2 linked regions of the Homo sapiens genome follow. The protein of the gene in region 1 interacts with the protein of each later gene in a pairwise test. Each region holds a gene or a part of one and is shown on either strand. Other genes may lie near its edges.

The links.
Region 2: the proteins of RPS6KA3 (region 1) and SMS interact in a two-hybrid assay, tested with the Homo sapiens proteins (one large-scale study listed by BioGRID and IntAct).

The regions. Positions count from the first base shown.
Region 1 is NC_000023.11:20,169,410-20,172,909, forward strand, and holds part of RPS6KA3 (ribosomal protein S6 kinase alpha-3), read right to left. Parts: intron 3,463-3,500; coding exon 3,337-3,462; intron 83-3,336; coding exon 1-82. UniProt on the Homo sapiens protein: Serine/threonine-protein kinase that acts downstream of ERK (MAPK1/ERK2 and MAPK3/ERK1) signaling and mediates mitogenic and stress-induced activation of the transcription factors CREB1, ETV1/ER81 and NR4A1/NUR77, regulates translation through RPS6 and EIF4B phosphorylation, and mediates cellular proliferation, survival, and differentiation by modulating mTOR signaling and repressing pro-apoptotic function of BAD and DAPK1.
Region 2 is NC_000023.11:21,943,709-21,947,208, reverse strand, and holds part of SMS (spermine synthase), read right to left. Parts: intron 1-3,500. UniProt on the Homo sapiens protein: Catalyzes the production of spermine from spermidine and decarboxylated S-adenosylmethionine (dcSAM).

The sequences.
Region 1 (3,500 bases):
GAGTGATAATGTTTGGATGCTGTCCATAACGAAGAAGAATTTCAATTTCTTCTGTTGGGTCTCTCTTGCTTTTATCAATAATCTAAAAGGCAAATGTTTATCACAAAACCTCATCAACTATACAGTTATAAACATTAATTGTTTATAGCTACAGACCTTGGGTATTACCTCATGTAAATAGTGTATAAATAAGCCATTTATCAGTCAGTTTTATTCAACTACCTGGCCAGATTGTTTAATCAGAAAGCCAGTCTTGATATAGATGGCAAGGCTGTAAATTCTAACTCATGAGTCGCATTCCCACCATGCCTCTCCAATCTAAGTTTGTAAGTTTGTAGTAAGTTTAGGACTTAACCAAAAACTCAAAAAGCCTCGAGAAAAGGTACCAAGAACACAGTTAACATATCTTTTCTTCTATCCTTGAGGCCTTAAACATTTGGGAACTCAGTCAACTTCTAACCCCCCATCAATACAGATAATTAAGAGCTAGATATAACACCACCACTAGCATCTGCTTATTGAATTAAGTTTACTTCCTTTAATAAAATGCTTCAATTGAATATCCTGTTAGCTGTAAGCTACTTATAAAAGCTAATTATCTGCTAAGTAGAACAATCTTGTTTTTGAAGTTAGGCAGAAAGCTACATAGAAAATCATACCTAGCATTTTATTTGGTTAGAATTTGGTTTAATTATTATAATAAAGCCCTTTAAAATAGTAATGTAGCTTTCTAACCCTTTTATATTGGCTGCTCCTTAAAAATATTTTTCTTAATGTTTTAATCTGCTCAACTAATATTATATAAAAAAGACAAATTTTGCTTTCTATTCATTCAAAGGGTAGTCTGAAACAAATTAGGTGGCCTTTGTATGTTCAATTTTAAACAGCTTAGTAATTAAGTATGCACTAAATACCCAGACACTCCAGCAACCTAGGAAAGAGGTTACAACTCTCAAGCATGGGTCCAGTCTTCTATCTGAAATGGATTTATAGTTGACCCTTGAACAACACAGGTTTGAACTATGAGGGACCAATTACACGTGGATTTTCTTCTGCTTCTGCCACCCCTGAGACACCAAGACCAACTCCTTCTCTTCTTCCTCCCTCCTCAGCCTACTTAAGGTGAAAATGATGAGGAAAAAGACCTTTATTATGATCCACTTCCATTTAATGAACAGTAAATGTATTTTCTCTTCCTTATATATATTTTTTCTTTTTTTGAGACAGGGTCTTGCTCTGTTGCCCAGGGTGGAGTGTAGTGGCGCAATCACGGCTCACTGCAACCTCAAACCCCTGGGCCCAAGTGATCCTCCCACCTCTACCTCCTGAGTAGCTGGGACCACAGGCACATACCACTACACTCAGAAAATTTTAAAAATTATTTGTAGAGATGAGGTCTGGCTATGTTGCCAAGGCTAGAGTACAGTGGCACATAGCTCACTGCAGCCTGAACCTCCTGAGCTCAAGCAATCCTTCCGTCTCAGCCTCCTGAGTAGCTGGGACTACAGGCACATGTAGCCACGCCTGGCTAATTTTTAAACAATTTTTCTGTAGAGATAGGGTCTTGCTCTGTTGCCCAGGCTTGTCTCAAACTCCTGGCCTCAAGCAATCCTCCCACCTCGGCCTCCCAAAGTGCTAGGATTACAAACGTGAGACACTATGTCTGGCATGATTTTCTTAATAACACTTTCTTTTCTCTAGCTTACTTTATTGTAAGAATACAGTATATAATACATATAACATACAAAATAATCGACTATATATGCTATCAGTGAGGCTTCTGGTCAACAGTAGGCTATGAGCAGTTAAGTTTTGGAGAGTCAAGTTATACGTGGATTTTCAACTGCTTGGGGATCAGCACTCCCAAGTCCTGTGTTATTCAAGGGTAGACTGTACTTGTATAACAGTTCTGTATTTGGAGAACAGGGAAGGTAAACATACAGGTGCCCACTGTAATCAACTGCAAATGATAGTGTGGAATTAGGCAAATGGGTGATTAAGAGGAGAGGTATATGGAATAGACATGCTAATTTAAGAGATGACCTGGGACTAGTCTTTTGAAAACCAGAACACACTGGGAGGGGTCGTTTTTGGCATGGATCTGCTAATCTGAGCCCAGTTTGCATTAGATCTATACTTGTGCTTGTGGACCTCAAATATGTGGTAATTTCAGTAGAATCCAGTTGTGTTGGGATTGGTTTTATGAATCATTTAAGTTACAAAAATCCACAAATAGCTTGGAGATATTTTTGAGGTTTTAGGCATAGTCCTCAAGGTTTCTGTAATTCAAAGGGGCCTCAGGACATTTCTGCTTTTTATGATGTATTTATGGAGGCAAGACACATCCTTAAACTGCCTACCAAATACATTATTAGTCTTTTCTCCTTTCATGTAAGCAATTTGAAAACTTCTATGTATCTTAGATTTCAGTAAGAGCAATGAATAGGAAAATAGAAAATTAAATGTATTTCTTTTAAGAATTTCCTTCTTTAAAATTAGCTTTATTGTCCTTCCAATGAAGCAAATTAAATGTATTTTTATGGTTCATCCTTCTATCTGACAGAAAGCCCTATAGACACTGACGACTTTAAAGCAGTTACATCTAAGTTTAGAAGAGTGATAACAACTAATGTCACTATCTCTCTAAACATGAGCTATGTATATTTATAAACCAGTCCTAAGGTTCAAACAAGTTGAAAGCTTTAGACATTGTTTGAATTGCTTGAGATTGGAGAGCAGAGGTTACTATTCCAAGAAGTGAAAAGAGACTTGAACATAGTGCTTGTTCACTTACGACTAAAGGTTTGAAATTCAAACTTTATCGTAGAGCTAGGTTCCTTGGTTTTTGGCTTAGAAAATTCTGTCTTAGGATACTTGATGAAATTAAAACAGCCAATGATAACGAATTTTATGATAGTGGTTTTTATTCATTAGTTCCCAGATCCTTTTAGATGCAAAGAAAGGTATGAACTTTTTGCCAGAGAAGATGTAAACATACAAAATTTTGCACACAATTTTGAGGAATTTGCTGACACCCTGAGCATAAAATGGGGACTTCTCAGAGTAAAAAGATACTTTAAAAATCACTTGAGGTAAAAAAAGAAAAAAAATCACTTGAGGTGTAAACTGCTACTGCTCTGGGAAAACTAGATATATAACCACCTTACCTTTAGCTCACAGGGTTCTAGATTAAGATCTCTGAAGATCACTAGCCAGATATTTAACTTTTTTATAACAAAAGGCACTTTTAACAACAAGGGGAGTGTAATTTTTAACTGGTACTGACATGCATGAACAAGAACTGTATGAATTGCATTTTAAATAAAAAAAATTTACCTTCACTGCAAACTCCATGTTTGTAGCTTTATGTATACATCTCTTGCAAACAGAGTAGGAGCCAACTCCAATATCTTCTTTTACTTCATATCCATCAGTAAACTGAATACTGTTCCTGTGTAACTGCTACAAAAAATTATAAATTGGTGAAGAGTCCCATAATG
Region 2 (3,500 bases), 1.8 Mb from region 1:
TGCTGAAGGAGCGGGAGGAAGGAAGCTTTCTCTACTCTTGAGAAAGCTAGATGCAATCTGAACTACATTGTTTAGGTTTTATTATTTAGACAGTTATAGCTATTTAAAACACACAAAGAAGACATGCTTCCACCAGAAGGCAGCTCAAATACAGGGGAGCGTGGGAGCTGGTTAAAAAGAGCGATGGTTCAGGAAATCAGGGAGGGAAGGTCACCTCAAACCACAGGCTCAGTTCAGTAGGAAGCAATGACCAAGCTCCTAACAGAGCCCAGTGCCAACCTTAGAGAAAGACAGGGCCCATCCTCCTTCCCTGCCTAACAATTTGTGGGCATAACTGACACTTCCAAGAAGGACCAGGGAAATTTTGCTGATGATCTGTCATCCAAATTACTGAAATGGTCTAGTATGAATTTAAACCAGGGTTTCTCTGCCTGGGCACTATGGACATTTTGGGCTGTCAATGCCGCAGGGGAGTTGTCCTGTGCGCTGCAGGACGTACTAGATGCTAGTAGCATCTCCCCAGTTGTGACAACCAAAACTGTCTCCAGAAATTGCCAGATGTCACCCACGGAGGGAAGCACCCACATTGAGAATCACCGCCTTAAACTAAGAGGCTTCAGAATCGTGGAAGCAGAACCAGCCTTCCAATCAAACAAACATGGCTTTGAATTCCAGCTCTGCCACTCAAAAAGTAAAAAACCTCAAGATTAGGCCTATTTATTTGTCTTTAAAATGGGGATAACAAGACCTACCTAGGGTTATTTTGAGGATTTACCTAAAATTAATGCACAAAGCACTCAGGGCACTTAGCCCCTGTGGCAATTACTAAGTACAACTTTTATGTTTTCAAATAGTTCAAAGAGCCGCTTTTGTTTTTGAAGAATAACTAGGGACATGTGCCTCCAGCATTGGCCTTGGGTGGAAACCTACACCCCCTAAAAGGAACGGGCTGTCTCAGTCCTCCCCCTCCCCAGCCTGGGGGTCTCAACCTGGGGTCCATGGATGCCCAAGGGGCCAATGGATACAATTCAGGGGGCCTGTGAACTTGAATGGAAAAAAACACACAGACTTATTTTCACTAATAGAAATTTAGCACTTTCTTCAGTTATGCTTGGAGGCCAAAAAATCACACACTGTCAACTACACCTGGTCATTGTCACAAAAAATCAGGTTTTTCTCCTTGCCTAACAATTTGTTAAATATCAATTTTGCTCAGCTCTACTTATGAAACTTACTAGCCTTGCTGCCACATCTTGTTATTTGATGTGTTAATAAAGAAGCACATGAGCTGGGCGCGGTGGCTCACACCTGTAATCCCAGCACTTTGAGAGGCCAATGCGGGTGGATCATGAGGTCAGGAGTTCGAGACCAGCCTGGCCAACATGGCGAAACCCCATCTCTACCAAAAATACAAAAATTAGCCGGGTGTGGTGCCGCGTGCCTGTAATCCCAGCTACTCTGGAGGCTGAGACAGGAGAATAGCTTGAACCTGGGAGGCAGAGGTTACACTGAGATCGTGCCATTGCACTCCAGCTCTGGGCGACAGAGCGAGACTGTAGGGGGTGGGGGGGGGGACGGGAAGCAAAGCACATGTTACCATACCACACGGTGGGGGTTTTGTATTTTGAAGATTGGGTTATTTCACGCATCTAAAATTCTTACTCTGAGAAGAGGTGCACAGGCTTCCCTGATGAGGGTCAAGGGTACAAAAGAACCCCCTGCCCCAAACCTTCTCCGCTAAGCCCGTAATTCCCAAGTAGCCTTCTGTTCTTAAATTATTAAACAAGGTTATAGAATTTGTGAATTTGAGCGACACAAATCTCCTTGTGTCCCTGCACAAATCATATAGCAATGGTCCAAATGACAGACCTAACAGTATCTGCCACGTTTCTGAATTCTGGACCATCCTCATAATTCTACAAGGTAAATGAGCATCTCACTTTCCCCTAATGGACATGAACCAGCATTCCACCTTTACCATAACATAAACTTGGTCTATTTAATCAGCGTGTACCAAATATCTACCATGTACCAGAGCTGTCTCCAGGATACAGACCCTGGTGGAGGTCTGCCTTCAAAAGATACGCCCAGCCCAGGGGAAAAAAATGGACATAGGATTGCTAGACCTTTTCAGAGCTGGCTGGCCTGTTAGAGACCTTCCACTCCAACATGGCAAGAAGAGGTTACAGCAGCTCACTCACCACTGTTTTTGTGTGCGGGTTTTGCTTTTTTGACACACAGTCTCTCTGTCGCCCAGGCTGGAGTGCAGTGGCACAATCTGGGCTCAGCGTAACCTCCACCTCCCTCGTTCAAGCCATTCTCTTGCCTCAGCCTCCAGAGTAGCTGGGACTACAGACACAGGCCACCAACACCCGGCTGATTTTTGTATTTTTAGTAGAGATAGGGTTTCATCATGTTGGCCAGGCTGATCTCAAACTCCCGTCCTCAGGTGATCTGCCCACCTCAGCCTCCCAAAGTGCTGGGATTACAGGCATGAGCCACTACGCCTGGCCCTTGTTTTGTTTTTGAGAGAGTTTCACGCCACTGTCCAGGCTGGAGTGCAGTCTCCACTTCCTGGGCTCAGGGGATCCTCCCGCCTCAGCCTCCCAACTAGCTGGGACTACAGGTGCAGAAAACTCACCACACCTGGCTAATTTTTTTTCTTTTTTTTTTTTTTTTTTTTTTTGTAGAGACAGGTTTTTCCCATGTTGCCCAGGCTGGTCTTGAACTCTTGGGCTCAAGCGCTTCGCCTCCCAGAGTGCTGGAATTACAGGCATGCGGCATCGCGCCGGGCCTCTCACTCACTCTCTGGATACCCAGGCATCCTGCCTAGCACATAGGGCTAGGAACAGATCACATTTCCTCCACCAACTCAGATATGCCTAAACTATCTGAACATGGGACAAGTTTATTCCTGTTAGCCTCAGGCTAAGTCACAAAATGTTTTTCGGGCTCAAGAGTCCTTATAGTCCAATACTTCACTTACAAGATGACCACAGATGAGTTGTTTTTTTAAAAGCAAAAATAAAAATTTCCTGGGTTACACCTCATCAGCCACAACACTAAACCAGCACCACCAAGCCCAACCTACAGTTGCTCTTGGTGGTCTGGTGGCTGCTGCGTTCCCAACACAGTAACAACATCATAACTAAGTGGTTCAAGTTTAATTCCACTAAAATCACATCATGGAACTGGAACATTAGAAAGGATTACTGACAAACGGGGAAAAGAACATGAATCCAGGCTCCACAGGCATTTGACTCACCCTTGAGTCACATCCAATATTCACATGCCAAGAGTAATGCCTTTTGACTCATTATCAATTAAGTGTTTCTGGAGACCTCACAAGTCGATTTTTCACCAAGTTCCCCTTACTAAAAACTAAGTGAACTTAGATCCCAATCTAGCCAGGATCTCTTTATTTTTCAAATGTGGATACTGACAGGACGATGTGCTTCACCCCAAATAAAGTGATGGAAGAGAATGCAATATGAATCGGA